Regions from separate parts of the Homo sapiens genome. Here region 1 is linked to region 2. The links come from fine-mapping of genetic effects on gene expression. A gene starts in region 2. The other region holds a variant in brackets. All regions are shown on one strand. Distances are from middle to middle.

Region 1 (9,824 bases), 95 kb after region 2:
TTATTATCCCATAAGCCTCTGAGCTTCTGATTTATTTTCAGTCTTTATTCTCTCTGTTCTCCAGATTGGATAATTTCTACTAAGATCCAATCTACCTTCAGATACTAATCTACAGAAGATAATCTCTCTCTACATTCACTGATCTTTTTTTCCCCTTGTCTCCAGTACTCTTGTAACGCCTTTTCAAATAAATTTTCATGATATTTTACTCTTTGGCTGTGGAATTTTCATTTTTTTCTTTTGTTTAGCTTTCATTTTTCTGCCTAGTTTCCCTGCCTTCTTTATTCATTATGACATATTTGTCTTTACTTTTTGAAACATCGATTTAATATACCTTTTGAGTCCTTGTTTGCAAATTCCAACATCTTGAACATTTCAAGTTCAGTACCTATTGACTGCTTTTTCTCTTGACTGTGGATTACATGTTCTTTTGTGAGTTTACTAGTTTATTCTATACTACATGTTCTAAAGGAAACATGGTAGAGACTGTGATTCAGTTTTCTTCTAAAGGATGTTTGTTTTTTTTCTGATAGGCAGTCCACCTAAACACCAATTGTCTCTCTTGAAGTGGATGAAATCTGAGATCTCTGCTCAGTTCCTCCAGCCTCACAGATAATGTTTTACAGTCTGAAACTTGGAGTCCCCTGAATTTGTATTTACAGTTTAGCCAAGGATTTGACAGGTATTCAGATGTAGATTTAGGGGCTTCCTCCTTTTCTAAATTTTCCCCTTCACTTTCTAGCTATTTTGGCAGCTCTAAACTCTATGGCCTTACTTCCATTCCTATGCCTTTGACTTTCTTCCTGAATTCTTTCCATTCATTTTCCTGCAGATTGGGTAATGTCCACAGGTGCAAAGCTTACTACACCTGAATCTTATCCAGGGCAGTGCCCTTCCTTCAAAGGCCAACTTTCAATTTCATCTTGCTTTCAATGTTTCTTCAGGCCTTCAAAAAAACAGTTGTTTTTGTTGTATTTTCTGTTTTGTCTAGTGTTTATAAATCTTGTCTGTGAATGAATAAATTTGATAAAAGCTTCACTGCCATTACAGGAAGTAGATCATGGAAAAGTAGATTTTTCTAAGTGGAAAGATCAATGCTGTTAAGTCCAGATACAATATGAACCACATACGTAACTTGAAATTTACTAGTAGCCACATTAAAAAACAGTGAAAATACATAGAAAAAAATACGTTCTATTTAATTGAACATACCCAAATGTTACTGTTTCAACAAGTAATCATCGTAACATGAAGATATTTTCCATTGTTCTTAATATTTAATCTTTGAAATTTTGTGTATACATTTCACTTTTGGCAAAGCTCAATTCAGACACTAAATTTTTAATAGTTAAAGAGAAATGTACAATAATGTAGTTATGTTTAATTGAAAAATATTTTATATTGCTTCAGTTTTAAAACTTAAAATTGACTCAGTTAAAATATAAAAACTTAATTCCTCAGTTTTGGTAGCCACTTGTGAAGTAACCAGTAGCCATATGTGACTAATGGCTACCATACTGAGCAGGACAGGTCTAGATAATAAGAAAGGATTTCTATATTTTCACCCAGTGACATGATCTTAATATAAAGTGCAAGTATAATTTTATACAAATTAAAAGTAATTTATATATAAACACTTCCATTTGGAAAAAGAAAACTGTTTTTCAATATTTGCAAAGATGTGAAAAAGAATCCTAAACTTGCAAAAAAGATTTTTCTAATAGCAAAGCCAAATTGGTTTTCATAATTATACATCATTATGTGCAGAATTTGTCAACAAATTACTGTTTTTAATGGAACACATTGTTCATTCTTCTATGCACTTGTCCTTTTGGGATTCATATTTAATAACATCCTGGCTATAAAAGCTCACTAGTTTGCAAGTGTCCCTTTTTGTTGACTAATTATAATGATGATGTTGATTATTGAAAAAGTGGTCTTTTGGTATTATAGTCATAATTGTCTTGATAGAAGTGTGTCTCAATTGGCTTATGTAAAATTCCAGCTCTGTGAAATAGCACAATTCTCATAAATGATGATTGACTGGGTAGAAAATGTATCTATAAACTTAGAGCTTCCTTAGCACTCAATTTGGGATGGTAGTGCAGTGAGAGCCTATGTTATAATTCTAATGAGACTTCAAGTTACTTATAAGTTTTACTACCGTATCTGATTGACACTACTTGTGCTAAATTCCATCAGTGTCTAAACAAATGAAGAATATACATAACACTCAAAAATCAAAATCTAAAAATTACAGGATCATAAGGCAGGAAGCTTTGAATATGACAAAGCATAGTGATATCAATTTGCACCATATAGTGGGGCCCAAGTGCCATGCATATATAGTACATATGGTAAATGACATAAAGGCAGATGTAGAGGAAAAATGGATCTAAGAACAGTAATACTGTCTCTCTTCTTGATCTACTGGACCAAACAGGTATCAGGTAATTAAAGAAGAGAGAAATTTTCATTGTTCAGGGCAACTCAGTAGACCTTTGGGGCATGTGGTGTCAGATATTTCAAAGTTTCTTGAGCACTTACTATGTATCATGTAAGGGCGACATTCTTGGAATACTATCGTAGTTCCTACCCTCAAATAGATAAGAATCCAGTGGGCAAATTGCCAGGCAAAGTACTAAGAGTTTTACATTCATGACCTTATTTAATTCACTTAAAGACAAACAAAAATAAGATGGCCATTCTTCAGGGAAGAAAGTTGAGGCCTGAAATATTACTTCTTTAGGGTTACCTAAAATGCGTGTAGCAGGACTTGGATTTAAACACAGGTTTGACTCACTCCAGATGCCACACCATAGTCTTAGCCATCATTCATAGTACCTAAGAGAGGTCATCTCTGAACTGGCATTTCTTGGTTCTATATGAACAACCCCTGCCTACACACCAGGATATAATTCTTAGGAAATTTAAAAGCCTGGATATCCGTATTTTTGGCTCTGTTGCTCTAATGAGAAGAGAGATTATTTCTATCTGTTCACAAAACTTATTTCTGTCAGATGGCAATGTTGTACATTCTAGGTTCACAAGGATATTGTCCTAGATCTTATACCCTGGGGCTTCAGTAGCTTTTGAACTCGAAGGTGTGATCCAGGCTTTCAAGAGTGGGTTATCCTACTCCTTTGAATTTAAACAATAGGATCTGAACCTGGAAGCGTCCCTACATGATCTTTCCCAACCCTATTGTATTTCAGGCTTGGATAACAATTCTAAAGAGGTAGAAACTTGTTCAAGATCCGGGAGTCAGTGTCAGCCATTAGACTCAAACTTGCCTCTCAACTCCCAGGTCTTAGTATTTCCTCTGTATCAGACACCTTTTGTCTTTCAGAACCCCTTGCATACTCCAAAGTTTGGACCAAATATTGTTGTAGGACTTTCTCCTTAGTTCAGCTAAAGGCTGGGTTCTTGTCACACAGCCATGAAAGATTAGGCTTGCAGACACTTGGAAGGGTGAGAAGGGCAGCGTTTATTGGATGAAAAGGTATAAAAGAAAACAGGGACTCTCAGCAAAGCAAGTCCTGCTAGTAGGCTTCCTGCCTCACAGTTTGAATTCCAGGTTACCACCCTGGAACAGGAGAGGCCAGGCTCCTATCGCCTGCAAAGGGCGCGAATTTCCATGGCTCCACTGCGTTCTCCCAGTGTGCAGGCTGATCGGAGTTTCTCCGGGCACCCCTTTATACTTGGCTGTCTCAATACAAGTATAAATAGGAAAACAGGCATGGAAGAACTTCTGGGAGTATCCAGAAGTTATAATTCTCTCATCCAACAAGGAGGCTGAAATGTTCTGAGTATTCCTATGGGTGTGGAATGGTAGGTGGAGAGTGACTAAAGGGCCACTCAATTTAATTATTCTTGAAAAAATAAATCTCTCCCACAATGGGAGGAACAATTTGCTTACTTTGTTAGCTAGATGTTTTCATTATGCATCATGGTTATAAATCACTGAAAGGGAAATTTATATTTCAGAATCACAGACTCTTAGGACCGTTTATCGTGCCATTCTTTCCTCTTTCCCTAGCTAATGATTAAACCCCACTTAAATATCCCCACCAAATAGCATCATCTAGCATCTCCTTTGGAAGTTTTTCATATGCATCTTATCTTTTGTTATTTATAACTCTATCACATAAATATTAAAATTAACCCCATTTTACAAATGAAGACTTGGCTGATACATGTTATTAAACAACAATTGATAACTGGACACAGAAAGAATTAGGACTTGTTCTGTCTGAGTCATGACCTTTGCTCCACCCTCTCTCACATAAAATTTTGCTTGCATACTTCCAGTGTTAGGGAACTCATTATTACC[T/C]TCCAGGGACAGGAAACTCATTACTACCCGGGACATTCCTGAATATCTGTGGGTTGTTGCGATTATGAGAAAGCTCTTCCTTTAAAGGGACTGAAATTTGTTTCTATTGGGCTTCTGAAAATTAATCTCACTTTATTTCCTTGTTCTATATGAGCATAAGTGTAATTCTTTTCACACACAATGATCCTTAAAGAATATTAAGAGAATTCCTCTGGTGTCCTTTTTTTTTTTTTTCCTTCCTCAAGTTATATACATATTCTCATTTCTTTCAGATGGTTCCCTTCCCCACCCAGCCCCACCCTGGAACATAATTTCTAGTTATCTTGCCTTTGGGTCCCTCTGAACTCCTTTCACTTTAAATGAGCCTTAGAGTAAGGCTTCTTTTTTGACTGATGTCTGAGATTGGGTGAAATGTATTAAGAGGAAAAAGAAATTATTCAGTATGGTAGCTTAGATAATATAAAATATCTTCTGTTGCACACACAAGTTCAGAGGTGAGTGGTCTGAGGCTAGTAGCATTGCTCTGTGATCTTTAATCCTTAGCACGAGACTTCCAGGGTTGCTATGATCTTCATTTGTCAGCCAGCCGTCAGAGCATCAGTGGAAAGCAGCTCCATCTTTACATCTTTAAGAATAGCAAGACTCCGTCTCAAAAAAAAAAAAAAAAAAAAAAGAGAATGTAACTGGAAGTTTTGCATATCACTTCCTTCCAAATTTGTTCAGGTGCCTGGGATGGAAAATGCCACCTTTACCTGGGCAGCCATCCATGTTCCTGGAGAAAACTCAAGAGAGTGGGCCAGCCATGATGGCTCATTCCTATGATTCCAGCACTTTGGGAGGACCACTTGCTCCCAGGAGTTTCAGGCTGTAGTGAGCTATGATTGTACCACTGCATTCCAGTGTGGGTGACAGAGCAAGACCCTGTCTCTATTTAAAAACCAAAAATGAATAAAAAAAAAAAAACCTCAGGAGATTCTATACTGAAAAGACAAAAGGAAACATGGATACTAGAGGATAGTTGCGGATTCTGCCACATAGAGTAAGGTGTAAATAAAAAGCAAAAGTCAAGAAAATATTGACCAGGGCCTGGAAACAGAAACCAGGAAGTTTCAGTTCTTTGTTTTATCTGACCTCTAGCACATGACTTACAATTTTGCCTTCAATTCTAAAAACAATATTAATTGCATACACTTTTTTTTCTATTTCACAAAGATATTGTGATTCCTTTTTATTTTTTTATTTTATTTATTTTATTTTATTTTTTTGAGATGGAGTCTCGCTCTGTCACCCAGGCTGGAGTGCTGTGGCGCGATCTCGGCTCACTGCAACCTCCACCTCCTGGGTTCCCGCCATTCTCCTGCCTCAGCCTCCCAAATAGCTGGGACTACAGGCGCCCACCACCACGCCCGGCTAATTTTATGTATTTTTAGTAGAGACGGAGTTTCACTGTGTTAGCCAGGATGGTCTTAATCTCCTGACCTCGTGATCCACCCACCTTGGCCTCCCAAAGTGCTGGGATTACAGGCGTGAGCCACCACGCCCGGCCTGTGATTCATTTATAACAGTGATTTTACTCCCTGTACTGAATGGCTGTATTATGTAGTTATGGCTGGTGTGATTATTCCTGAAGTGATCTGTTTGGAATGGGCACATTATTAGGACTTGGAGAGGTAGAATTATAGGATAGAAGATTCTCAAATTCAAGAAATGGTGATAAGATTATTCAGAAAAATGTTACTATACATTAAAGCTCTTCAGCTATTTTTTGGTCCTCAAGGTTTAATGAATCTTTGGGGGAAAAAACAGTTTGGGGTTAACTTTTTTATGTTAAGCAGAAATTTGATATAATTATTTTCCTTATTGAGTCTTCTTTGGACAGAGAAAGTGGTTCTGGTAATTCTACCGTGATTTCATTGATATGATAATTAGTTGTACTGAGGATGAATCTGTAGCATTTAAAAGTTGTACAATAAATAAAATGTAAGCTCTGCTGAGCCCTGGGCATTTTTGTTAAGGCTTTATGCAGCAAGTTCTACTTAGAGAACAAAGCATATGCCTTGAGGGTGAGAAAAAGTGGCTTTCATAGGAAGAATTTGGGATCAAAAGGCACTTACCTATCCCTACCTCTATGGTCTAGAATTAGATACACGAACCCATGAATAGGTCCCAGACTGCCCGGGAGCCATGTCTGGTTCCACATATTATTGTTTCTTTACTTCTACTAGGTAAATATACTCTTCTCACCATACTTCCTGATCAGTTGTGACTCTGGTGAGGTGATCTATAAAAGACTACTGTCTTAGGAGGTTTCAATCCTTGTGTCAGGCCCCATTGCCATAGTAGCAGAGACTGTAGGGCCCGTAGCAGAGACTGCCAGCATCTCTGCTCTCCCATCTTCCTTTCTAATAGGCTGTTAATGGGTAGCATCTATGTGGCTAGCTGAAAGCTTACCTTTCCCAGTTTCTCTTACTGATGGGGGCTGCGGCCACTAGATGTGAACAAAGCCATCAAATAGGGTGTCCATGAAAGCTTCTAAGCAAGACTAAGCATGATGAGGTGCACACTTCGGCTGCTATCTCACCCTGACTTTCTGTTAGGTGGAATGTGGGTGTGATGGCAGCAGCCATGAAGTAAGGTTGAAGGGAAGAAAGAGGAGCCTGGGTCTCTGACTTGGGGGCTGCTCTAATATCACACTGAAACTGCCTAGTCCCTGAATTCTTCTTTGGGGGCCCCAAAGACCTATGTCTTATTTAAACCATGTGTCTTAGGGCAAGTCTCATAGAAACAGAGCCTCAGACCAGGATTCAGGTGTAAACTTACAAAAGAGAGTGAAGCACCAAGGGGAAGTAGGGGAGAAGAATGTGGCCCCACATGAAGCCTAATCTTGACCTGATCTGTGAGGATGTGGGGAATTCCAGAGCATAAACTGCCCAGGGAGTTGTCCTGCAGAGTCCTCACACTTTGAGGCAAAGGGGTGAGCCCTTCGTACTACATATGAGTCAGCCATTGGCTGTGGGCTACCTCCAGAAGGTGTTGCATGCAAAACTTTCTGGGGGAGGCCACTCTTGTCAGCTGGGACAGTTCTCCAGAGGAGAGGCACAGAGTGAGCAATCAGCCAGCGCCTCACAGAGGCTGGGGTCTGGGTATGCCAGCCCAGGGCACACCCAGGCCGGGCTGGATAGGGTGTTGTGGTGCCTTCTGTAGTCCTCCCTACACATTGCTCAGAACCACTTGCTTCTCATATGACATTCATTTTATCCAGTTATGGCCTCTCCAGGATTCTGGGTTCAAGAGTCCTGGGGATTTTTTTATTTTTTATTTTTTATTTTTTTGAGATGGAGTCTCACTCTGTCACCCAGGCTGGAGTGCAGTGGTATGATCTCGGCTGACTGCAACCTCTGCCTCCCGGGTTCAAGTGATTCTTCTGCCTCAGCCTCCCAGGTAGCTGGGATTACAGGCGCCCACCACCATGCCTGGCTAATTTTTATATTTTTAGTAGAGACGAGGTTTCACCATGTTGGCCAGGCTGGTCTCAAACTCCTGGCCTCAAGTGATCTTCCCGCCTCGGCCTCCCAAAGTGCTGGGATTACAGGCGTGAGTCACCACACCCAGCCGAGTCCTGGGAAATTTTTAAGAGAAGGATTAGTGGGATGAACTACAGCACCTGCTGCAGTAGTTAGTCCTGAGCTGAAACATACTCAACTCCTTTCTCTGCCCCCGATCCTAGACTCCTTTCCCTCTCCGCTAGCACTTCTCAGGTATAGGTGGCTTGCCTTAGGCTGATCCTCATCTCTAATATGTCTGAAGAGCTGGTTATCATGCCTTTATCAGGCTGTGCTTGATCAACTTTCCCATTTAGAGTAAGAGTTAGGCACAGGAGTATCAAGAGATGCTCCAGTATTAGGAGAAGCTCTTCTAATGAGCAGGGGAAATAATTTATTAACCACACACCACAGACCCAAGGCTGTGCTCACCTGTTTCAGTAAAGGTATCACATTCAGCACAGAAGACCCAGTGGAGACTTCTGCTTGGGAAATTTATTGTTTAACCCACTATTGTTTTGCCAGGGTCCATTTTTTTTTTTTTTTTGGCAGGGATGAGACTGATTAATTATGTAAGATTATGAGGGAGACTATCATTCCTACATCCTTTATGTCTTTTTTGGGTTAGGGGGAGACAGGGTCTTACTCTGTCACCGAGGCTGGAGTGCAGTGGCATAATCACAGCTCACTGCAGCCTCGATCTCCCAGGTTCTAGCAATTCTCCTACCTCAGCCTCCTGAGTAACTGGGACTACAGGCATGCGCCACCAAGCCTGGTTAAATTTTTAAATTTTTGTAGCGATGAGGTCTCTATGTTGCCCAGGCTGGTCTCAAACTCCTGGGATCAAGCAATCCTCCCATCTTGGCCCCCAATAGTGCCAAGATTATACCTTTATGTCTTTGAGAATGATGTTAATCTGTCATGCCACCTGTGTGCAATGCTGTTTTTGATTTATCATCTTAGCTAGACATGGGAGTAGTTTTTGTGGCTATAGCCTAATCTTTCCTATTATGATAGTTCTTATCCTACAGGTTAAGAAAGAAATGTGAAGGTTCTGCCAACTGCTAATTGTGTCCTTTCTAATAAAACACTTGGGATCTAGGGACATGACCACCAGTTGGTCTGTAGATCCAGGGTCTTGGATCTACAGACCAACTGGTGGTCATGGGAGAGACTTAAGAAACCTGAGCTAGAAATCCATTTATTATTTACTTAATCCCTGAGTCTCATAGGTAGGACATAATACTGCTTCACTTCTTTGGATATCAGTAATTAATATCAGTATTAATTAACCCAGACCCTGTATCCAGCAGCCCTCAAATGAATTGAATAGTCCCTTTACCCCAGTGTTTTGTCACCCAAGAAAATGGTGATAGGTATTTCTGGGGAAGAGCTGGTTGAAATCACTGCTATATATACTTCTCGTGATGTTGCAGTGTCTTTTCCTCATAGGAGACTTGCCTACTTCTTCAGTCAATGGGTTCTGGGTGTGAGAATGCTCAGGCCTGGAAACTGGACAGGGATCATAATTATCCATTGAGGTGACCAATTACATTGCCCCTAGGAACATCACGTTTTACAAGCCAACGCCATAGAATCCTGCAGGCCAGAGTATGGCTCACCCCTGTAGCTGCCATTCTAACCTTGCCGCTGATTATGGTAATTACGTCTACTGTTTTTGATGTTGAAGTGCTGCCACCTGGCGTCAGTATGTAATCTATCTCCCATTGCTATTAGAAAACCCAGTTTTGCAATAGCGTTTCCTATTGTCAGTGTAAGCCTCAGATGCCACCACTGATGAACTATGAATGATGCTGGTCCCCTCCCCTCCAAACACAAGCAAGTGAGTGATTGTGAGAATAATACTGGCCGTTGCTTTCATTGGAGCAGTGCTGTGAGTACTGCATTTCTTAATTCTTTAGTAAAATGAAACGTCCTCTGAGCCCTTC
Region 2 (9,824 bases):
TAAAAAATATTGAGATATATTAGTCACTTCCTGCCTTGTGTTTAACAGTTCTCAATGGTAATTTCTCCACCCCAAGGAACAATTTTTAAAAAAATCAAACATCAAACAAATAGTTCACGCAATTCTTTTATGAACAGGCTTCCTGTAGCAGCATAGTTTACACTAAAAAGAAAATCATGTGCTGATGAATTGTTGCTTATTTTGCAGCTTCCTTAGTTTATAATGACCTAACTAGCTAACTAGAGGAAGAGTGAAAAATTGATTACTTACATATGGTGTACATTGTTCCAACAGAATTTGGAGTGGTTGACAGAATAGAATAGAATCAAAACAGTTAGTCTAGCCAATATTCAATGCTGCTTTATCGTTGAATAATTTCACTTCCCTACAGATGTTTAGTAAAGTAGATATTCAACCATTCATTATTCTTCCCCACCCCAAAACTTTTATTTTACAACTCAGGTTACAAAAGGAGGAGTGCAAATTTGTGATTACTATTACTAAATATTGTGATTACTAAAAGTTGTGATTACCATTACTATATAGTGTGATTACTAAAAATTGTGATTACCTTCTTTAGCTACAGAAGAGCAAAGTGAAAGGGAGGTTCGCGAGGTTATTATTCAGGTTGATACATTATGCTGATCAGTTGTTTATACTGCCTGAAATCACTCTACCAGATGTTCATTTATATAGTTTGTGGGACTTAGTTTCAGAATACCAGATTATAATATAGGTTTTGTGTAAATATCTCTATAATCTTAACACAATCTATTTACTTAAAAAAATTAGTGCAACCCTGTGTTGGCATGGTTGAATTCTGCTGCAATTCATACATCCATCCTCATCACCTCAATCATGAATGCAGCATGCAGGAGATGTAAGAACTAAATCAGACTGTCACCAGAACTTCCTCCCACATGTGGAGGGACTTGCCCTAGAATTGTCTATTTTCTATCTCTATAATGTTCAAAGCCTGGAGAACAGCTCAGTGGTGGCTGTGTCCTGGAATGATGCAGCGTGACTGAATGCCGAGCTGTGAGCACAGATATGGGTTTCCTCCTTCTTCTCTGGTCCTGTGATTTCATCAGTCTTGGGCTTGCTGCCTTCTGAAAGCAGTGGGTCCCAGAGTCAATCATACCTTCAAACTATCCAACAGAGTCACTCACTTAATCATTAGGATTGCTTGGGTCTCCTTGAGATGATATTTCCAAGTCTTTGTTTTAAAGGTAGAGAAGCTAAAGCCCAGCAATGAAGGAAGTAATTTGGCCTCATTCATTCACTGAGCTTACAGTCTAGTTGGGGAGAAAACAATTAATTAAGGAATCCATAAGTATGGAAATATAAATTGTAATGAAGGAAAATCACGGAGAGCCATGAGTACCTACAACAGGAAACAGGGATGCTCAGGGAATCTGGGAGAGCTTCCCTGAGGAAGCGTGTTGAAGTATGACACAGAGAATAAATGAGGGTTAGAAAGGCAAAAGGGGGAGTGGTGGCAGACAGTAGGAACATTTCAGGCTACAGGTATAGTGTACATAAAGGCCCTGCGATCAGTGACACAGAATAGGGCCTACTTTTCCTGAGTTTCAGTATAGAGATTTTTAAATTCTTCTAGAAGTGACTTTGTAAGCGTTAGTTTCTTTCCTGGTGTCCTCTGGTACCCTGGATAACAGCTCATCCTTCCTGAAAACAGGCTGTCAAAAGTTGCATTACATACACAAAGCAAACCAGGGTGGTTTTTAAACTTTTGTCTGAGCTGTCACTTACCTCCTGATACAAGGTAGCCATGGACTTTTGATAATAAAACACAATGAAACTGATTGTAACAGATTGGAAGAGGAACTGTGCATTTCCTACTCAAAGTTAAATATTTTTCCCAAATTGACCCAAAATAGGTGACTGTTTGGCATTGGATGAGGTAATATTAAGTGGGTGGGTATTTCTCATAAGACTTTCTTTGGAGTTGTATAGAAGTCTTTTCCCCGCAGTGAGATGTGCAGGACGTTCTTAAGACATGGCTGTGAGCTAGTGCGGGGTGGGACATGTCTCTGGGAATACAGGTGCTAGCCCTCCAGGAGGGGACTGGCACAGCTCTCTGCCTAATTAGATTTACTCTTGTGCCCAGATGTCCGTGACACTTAGAATTTGTTCTTCCTACTTAGACCTCGCTATTCACCTTAGGGACAATAGGTATTCAAAAGGACTACCATTGGGCACTCGCTTCTGACAATCGGCTTCTCAGAGATGGACTGAAATAGGAGTATATTAGTTGTCACATAAAGTGTGATGTCAGAGCCATCTCAAAGCAAATGATGTGAATGTGATATCTGTTTGTCCTGTCATTTAAAACTCACATTACTTCAGCTCACAGGTGTTTTTTTTTCTTTTTTTAAAGGAATAATAGACTGTTAGAGCTACAGGGGACATAGATAGGATCTGATGTGACCTTTTCATTTTATACACGGGAAAACTAATTCCAGGAGAATGATGTGGCTTGCCTAAAGGCATATTATATGTCAGCTGTAGATCTGGGAGTCTAAATGGTCTCGTAACTGTTTACTACACAAGCTATAATACCTCCCTTAAGTGGGTGTAAAATTGTCATTGTGAAGAACTTTTCTCTTCATGAATTTGGGTGCAGAATATACCAGAGAGGAATTATATAGACTAATTCCTACCCTTATTAAAAATAGTTTCTCTCAGCTAATTTAGACACCCCCCTTCTGAAAAAGAAATCAGTTTACCACCATAAACATAGGAAAAGAACCTCTAATTATATATGTTGCAAAATAAGTGATATCTTTTTCTTAATTTCAGATAAGCTCTTATTCACATTTTTTCACTCTATCTCATGTGCTGTTTACTTCCTTATCTCTCAATCTGCACCTGCTCAAAAGAAGCTCAAGTTATCTCAGTCATGTCATTAATATATATGATTATATATTATATATAACTATATATTATATATATGACTATATATTATATATGTAACTATACATATAATATATATAGTTTTATTTTGTTTTGTTTCAACCTCATTTTAATGAAAGGGTCGGAGCAACCACAGTAAATGTCTGATTTTAAAACTGAATACCTATCTTGGACTACAAAATAGGCAGGGATAGTTTGTGTTATACTCAGACCAAGTTGGTGTACAGGAAAATCTCAATGCAGGCAGTGGCCAGGGGCTGGAAAGTGACAACAGGATGTGGAGAAGTCTCTCAAAGTGTGGCCACCTCACCCCAGATCACCTGATGTGCTTATTTAAAATGAGGCTCCACCTCAGACCTTCTGAATCCCATTTTCCTGGGGGTGAGGTATGCATATTGCTCCCAAAGTAAGTTTTCTGCATGATTCTTAGGAACATTTAGATACGAGAACCCCAAGAATAGAGGGAAGAAAAATAGAAGACGAGCTAAAGGAAATGATAAATAGTTGTGGTTACCATTCATCTCATTTGAGGCAAGTCCTTTTAAGTCTCAATTTCCCATCTGAGCTCATTCTATTTTCCCTCTGTTCCCTTCCATTTCTGAATTTCCCCAATTCTAAGTTTTTCTCTGAACTTTGAGCCTGTGAAAAAAGAAGGGATGCTGCCTCAGGCCACCCCAGCCTAGATACTCACTCTGAGTGCCATGAGGTAGTAGAGGACACTGATGACAGTCATGGGGAGGAGGTAGAATAGGAAGGAGGTGACCTGGATGATGAAATTGTAGATCCACATGGGCTTGATGACCGTACAGGTGGCCGAACCTGGGACCAGGGACCCATTGGGGAAGTAGTGGAACTTGATGCCATGGATGCTGGTGTTGGGCAGGGAGAAGAGCACGGAGAAGCCCCAGACGATGCCGAGGATCCTGAGGGCCCGGCGCCGGGTGCTCTGCAGTTTGGCGCGGAACGGGTGTAGGATGGCCACGTAGCGCTCCACGCTGACGGTGGTGATGCTGAGGATGGAGGCGAAGCACACGGTCTCAAAGAGGGCCGTCTTGAAGTAGCAGCCCACGGGCCCGAACAAGAAAGGGTAGTTGCGCCACATCTCATAGACCTCCAGGGGCATTCCAAGGAGCAGGACCAGGAGGTCAGAGACCGCCAGGCTGAAGAGGTAGTAGTTGGTGGGCGTCTTCATAGCCTGGTGCTGCAGAATCACCAGGCACACCAGGACATTGCCAATGACCCCCACCACAAAAATTGGCACATACACCACAGACACGGGGAGGAAGAAGTGGCTGCGCCGAGGTCCGCAGAGGAAGGCCAGATACTCCTCGGTGCTGTTCAGGTGTTTCTGGAATGGATCTTCTAGTTTCTGCTGGTAGATCCAGGAAGCATTCTGAAGTTTTTCCATCCCTGACATTAAAATCCAAGGCCTGAGCCTCCCCTGGTACGAGGCTCTGTTTCAAGCTGAGCCAGGAAAAAAAAAAAAAAAAGAAAAAAGGAAAACAAAAAAGAGAAAGCAGTCACGAAAGTCACAGGCTTCGTAAGGAAGGCTGGGAGAGAGTGAGTGTTTCACCCTCCAGGTTAGGCTGCCTGGACCGCCGATCCCTTTTGAAGAGCCCCGGAGACACAAGCCCCTCCCCTTGACAGGCTGAGGGCCAATGAGAGTGTGTTAGGCTGCACTGGAGGAGAGGGGTGCTGGCTTCGAGTCAGGAAGCAGGGGAGGAGGCAGAGACCTCTCCCTGAATGGGAAGGAGCTGGGAAGGCAGAGCTGACACAAAAGAAGCCACTCGAACTTCATGGATGGGCACTTTGAGCAATGCAGGTTGCAAAGTTGTGGGAATCTGGGTAGACATAGAAATTAAAGTTGCAGGGCCATGGGCAAAAGAATACCAATCTCCACTAACCCTTGTCAGCCGTACAGCATGATGAAAATAGGAGATCAATAGATTTCTCAAGTTATCTTGTTCCACTGGAAATTCAGGGTTCTCTGGGGATTAATGTGATAACATGATTAATGTGACTTTTTGGTTTTAACTGCATCAACGATAGAATCCGAAGCCTGAAAGGGCGCATGCACAGTGCCTAGCCCTGACTGCTAACTGACTCTTCAGTCTCAGCAGAGCTTTGCTGTAAGCAAAAGGCAAATGGACTTCAGAATTAGGAACACTCATAGAAATTTAGGAAAGTTGGCACAGTTACCCAAACTCTTAGAGGCTTATTTCCTTATCTGCATCATTAATTCGATTGCGTTCCACAATAACTTCTTGAGGATTCACTATTTGCCAGGGAATGTTCTAAGCTTTGTAGAAACACTAGTGTACAAGCAAGACAAGGTCTCTGCCCTAGTGGAGCTTTTCTTGCAGTAGGGAATTCTGAAAACACACAAGCAAATGAATAAATTAATAATATAATTTCAGATAGTAATTGATAAATAATTATTTATCAAGGATGGTGAAAGAAAACTTATCTCAGGAGATGTCACTTTAGCTGAGGTCTGAATGATGAAGTCAGTCATGAAAGAGCTAAGGGAAGTGTATTACTCAGCAAAAGTAATAGCAAGTGCAAAGGTCCTGAGGCAGAAACAAGCTGGATAGGTTTTAAAAATATCAGGAAGACCAGAATAACTGGAATTTAATAAGTGGTCAGCAAAGTATGAATGCTTAGATTGAAGTGGCTGGCAGGTACAGGTTCATGTAAACTCTTATAGGCCATGGAAGAGAGTTTAGCTCTGATTCAAATGGCAGGGAGAAGTCTTTAAAAGATTTTGCACTGGAGAATTAACGAGGGAGAAATTTTAACAGAAGGTAGGTAAGAGGCTAGTAAGACATAGTAGTGGCTTGGATTCTATGAGCAGTGGAGTTGAGAGATTTCTTTGGATTTAGGAATATTTTTGCAGGAGATAATACCTTTTATGGTCATTGAGAAGACTAAATTAAATTATATATAACGAAGCAACTTATACTTAAGAGATGCTCACTAAATGTTAATTTTTTCCCTTTATTTGTTAAATCAGATTATGACGTTAAAAATTAGAGAGGGAAAGTGACTTGTCCAAGAATAAGTCATCTCTCAAGTTAAGATAGTTTACGCTGCTGTAACAAATGATTGACATATCTTGGTGGTTTTAAACAATACAGATTTATTTCTCTTGTACTTCAAATGTATTGAGGGTCTGTCTCATGCTATGCTCACTCATAAACCTAGGCTGATGCAGTGGTCACTCTCTGGAATTTTGATTATCATTGTGATAGAGGAAAAGAGAGCTCTGGATGGTCTTAAGTAGGTAATTATAGGCTCTAGCCCAAAAGTAAGTAACTCATTGCCAGTTTTTCTCACAGCTCATTGACCAAGGTTAATCATATGTACCCATTCGACTACAGCAGGGTCAGGAAGTGCTGTCTTAGCATGTGCACAGAAGATGGAAAAGTAGGAAAAATTGATCAATAACATTAATAATAATTACAGACATGTAATAGGTATTGCAGAGCCAGAATTAGGGCCCTCTAGTTAAAGGCAAGTTTTGATGTTAAAATCACTATTTACAAACTTTAACGTATTTTTCTAATGAAATAGGAAAAGTTTAATGAGAATATCTCATTTAGATGTAAGGATCGTTATAAGGGTGCACAGTGGCAGACTATAAACTTAGCGCTGAGGAAGATGGAAAATATTTCTTTCTTTAACAAAAATATTTTTCCATAAGTTACTGGGGTACAGGTGGTATTTGGTTACACAAGTAAGTTCTTTAGTAGAGATTTGTGAGAACCTGGTGCACCCATCACCCAAGCAGTATACACTGCACCATATTTGTTGTCTTTTATCCCTCACCTGCCTCCCTCTCTTCCCCTAAAGTCCCCAAAGTCCATTGTATCATTCTTATGCGTTTGCATCTTCACACCTTAGCTCCCACATATCAGTGAGAACATATGATGTTTGGTTGTCCATTCCTGAGTTACTCCACTTAGAATAATAGTCTTTAATCTCACCCAGGTCATTGCAAATGCTGTTAATTCATTCCTTTTTATGGCTGTGTAGTATTCATATATATGTATGGAAATATATTTATATATTATATATCCATATATGGATATATATTTATATATTATATTTATATTATATTATATTATATATTATATTATATTGTATATTATATATATTATATATAATATATATAAGATATATTATATATAATATTATATATAATATATATTATATAGTATTTATATATGATATATCCATATATATGGATATATAGGATATCCATATATGATATATCCATATATATCAATATATATCAGAGTTTCTTTATCCACTCACTGATTGATGGGCATTTAGGTTGGTTCCACAATTTTACTGTTGCGAATTGTGCTGCTATAAACAGGCATGTGCAAGTATTTTTTTCGAATAATGACTTCTTTTCCTCAGACACCCAGTAGTGGGATTGCTGGATCAAATGGTAGATCTACTTTTAGTTCTTTAAGGAATCTCCACACTATTTTCCATAGTGGCAGTACTAGTTTACATTCCCACCAGCAGTGTAGAAGTGTTGCCTGATCACCGCATCCACACCAACATCTACTGATTTTTGATGCTTTGATTATGGCCATTCTTGCAGGAGTAAGGTGGTATCGCACTGTGATTTTGATTTGCCTTTCCCTGATTATTAGTGATGTTGAGCATTTTTCCATATGTTTGTTGGTCATTTGTATATCTTCTTTTGAGAATTGTCTATTCCTGTTCTTAGCCCACTTTTTGATGGGATTTTTTTTTCTTACTGATTTGTTTGAGTTTGTTGTAGATTCTGGGTATTAGTTCTTTGTCAGATGTATAGATTGTGAAGATTTTCTCCCACTCTGTGGGTTGTCTGTTTACTCTGCTGACTGTTCCTTTTGCCATGAAAAAGCTCTTTAGTTTAATTAGCTCCCAGCTATTTATCTTTGTTTTTATTGCAATTGCTTTTGGGTTTTTGGTCATGAATTTCTTGCCTAAGCCAATGTCTAGAAGGGTTTTTCCAATGTTATCGTCTAGAATTTTTATAGTTTCAGGTCTTAGGTTTAAGCCCTTAATCCATCTTAGTTGATTTTTGTATAAGGTGAGAGATGAGGATCCAGTTTTATTCTCCTACATGTGGCTAGCCAATTGTCCCAGCACCATTTGTTGAAAAGGGAGTCCTTTCCCCCACTTTATGTTTTTGTTTGCTTTGTTGAAGATCAGTTGGCCATAAGTATTTAGGTTTATGTCTGGATTTTCGATTCTGTTCTTTTGGTCTTTGTGCCTATTTTTATACCAGTGCCATGCTGTTTTGGTGACTATGGCCTTATAGTGTAGTTTGAACTCAAGTAGTGTGATGCCTCCAGATTTATTCTTTTTGCTTAGCCTCTCTTTGGCTATGTGGCTCTTTTTTCGTTCCTTATGAACTTTAGAATTGTTTTTTCTAATTCTGTGAAGAATGATGGTGGTATTTTGATGAGGATTGCATTGAATTTATAGATTGCTTTAGGCAGTATGGTCATTTTCACAGTATTGATTCTGTTCTCCATGAGCATGGGATGTGTTTTCATTTGTTTGTGTCATTGATGATTTCTTTCAGCAGTGTTTTGTAGTTCTGTAGTTTTTTTTGAGACAGATTCTCACTTTGTTGCCCAGGCTACAGTGCAGTGGTGCAATCTCGACTCACTGCAATCTCTGCCTCCTGGGTTCGAGTGATTCTCCTGCTTCAGCCTCCCAAGTAGCTGGGACTACAGGCATGCACCACAGTAACTCCCAAGTAGCTGGGACTACAGGCATGTACCACAGTAGCTCCCAAGTAGCTGGGACTACAGGCTGGGACTACAGGCATGCACACTACAGGCATGCCTGGCTAATTTGTATATTTTTAGTAGAGATGGAGTTTCGCCATGTTGGCCAAGCTGGTCTTGAACTCATGTCCTCAAATGATCCACCCACCTTGGCCTCCCAAAGTGCTGAGATTACAGGTGTGAGCCACCGTGCCCAGCCAATATTTCTTAATATATGAGGCAACAAATCTAAAATTCAAAGGCATTTCCACATTGTGACAGGGTAGGTCTAATCAAAAAGGATGATGTCTAGTACAGAATGTAGTAGCAGGCTCAATGCAGGGAGATGCTATAGAAGTAATAAAGGCACGGACTGCAGCGTAGCTTTGGGATTCAAATCTTGGTTCTGCCTCCTACTAGCTATGTGACCATAAGGAACATAATTAAACTCTGTAAGCCTCAGTTACTCCATCAGCAAAATGAGTAAAATAGCAGTATTGCTTTACAGGATTTCTAGGAGAATTAAATCGTTCCTGGTAAAATATTCAGTGTAAATTATTTTAAATAACATAATATTTAAATAAGTATTTAATAATGGGATATGCAATTGAATAATAATGATAATTTCATGATGGGGATGTCTTTCTTTTTATTGGGGTCAGAAAGACTATTACAAGATTTAAAAACTGGGAGATGTGCTTGGAGCTGCTAAAATGAGGAGTACTTCCAGCTTTTAATTAACTTTTAGTGCAGTATAGCAAGTCAGAATAGCTTCTAGGAAAGTATATAGACATCTGTTCCCCAGGTCACCAAGGTTTGCACCTGTACTTACCAACTATGTGAAGATGGTGAGAATAGCAAGGGGCTCAATATCTTGTAGGTAAGATTTGATGCAAGTGGAGATGTTTGCCTGAAGAAGACTCAGAGGAAAAAAGTGGGGCATGAGGATCACTTTCAAATATTTGAAAAAATATTTGGGTGACACCCATGGACAGAGGGGGAACTAATATTTAGAAAACCTAAAAGAACAATAATTTAGAGTCAATTCCACTGAGATTTCCTGATAAGTGAAGAGAGAACCTCTCAATCGTTCCCCTGAAAAATAAGAAATCA

Direction of the effects. Positions count from the first base shown, and alleles are read on the strand shown. Sizes are in standard deviations (SD) of each study's normalised expression.
In carriers of allele C in region 1, the expression in tibial nerve of the gene that starts at base 4,517 in region 2 tends to be higher than with T alone (moderate effect, 0.46 SD a copy in GTEx).

Evidence for each region. PIP is the estimated chance that this variant, and not a neighbour inherited with it, causes the effect.
Region 1: its variant is fine-mapped to the expression of NMUR2 in tibial nerve (GTEx, PIP above 0.99).

The regions. Positions count from the first base shown.
Region 1 is chr5:152,496,066-152,505,889 of GRCh38, forward strand. No RefSeq gene overlaps it. Among named protein-coding and RNA genes, the nearest start is that of NMUR2, 96 kb to the left of the region's middle. The variant T/C (reference allele first, on the strand shown) is at 4,334.
Region 2 is chr5:152,400,763-152,410,586 of GRCh38, forward strand. It overlaps NMUR2 (neuromedin U receptor 2), which reads right to left and starts at 4,517. Exons shown (of 4, transcript NM_020167.5): 1 at 3,626-4,517. The coding sequence starts at 4,351.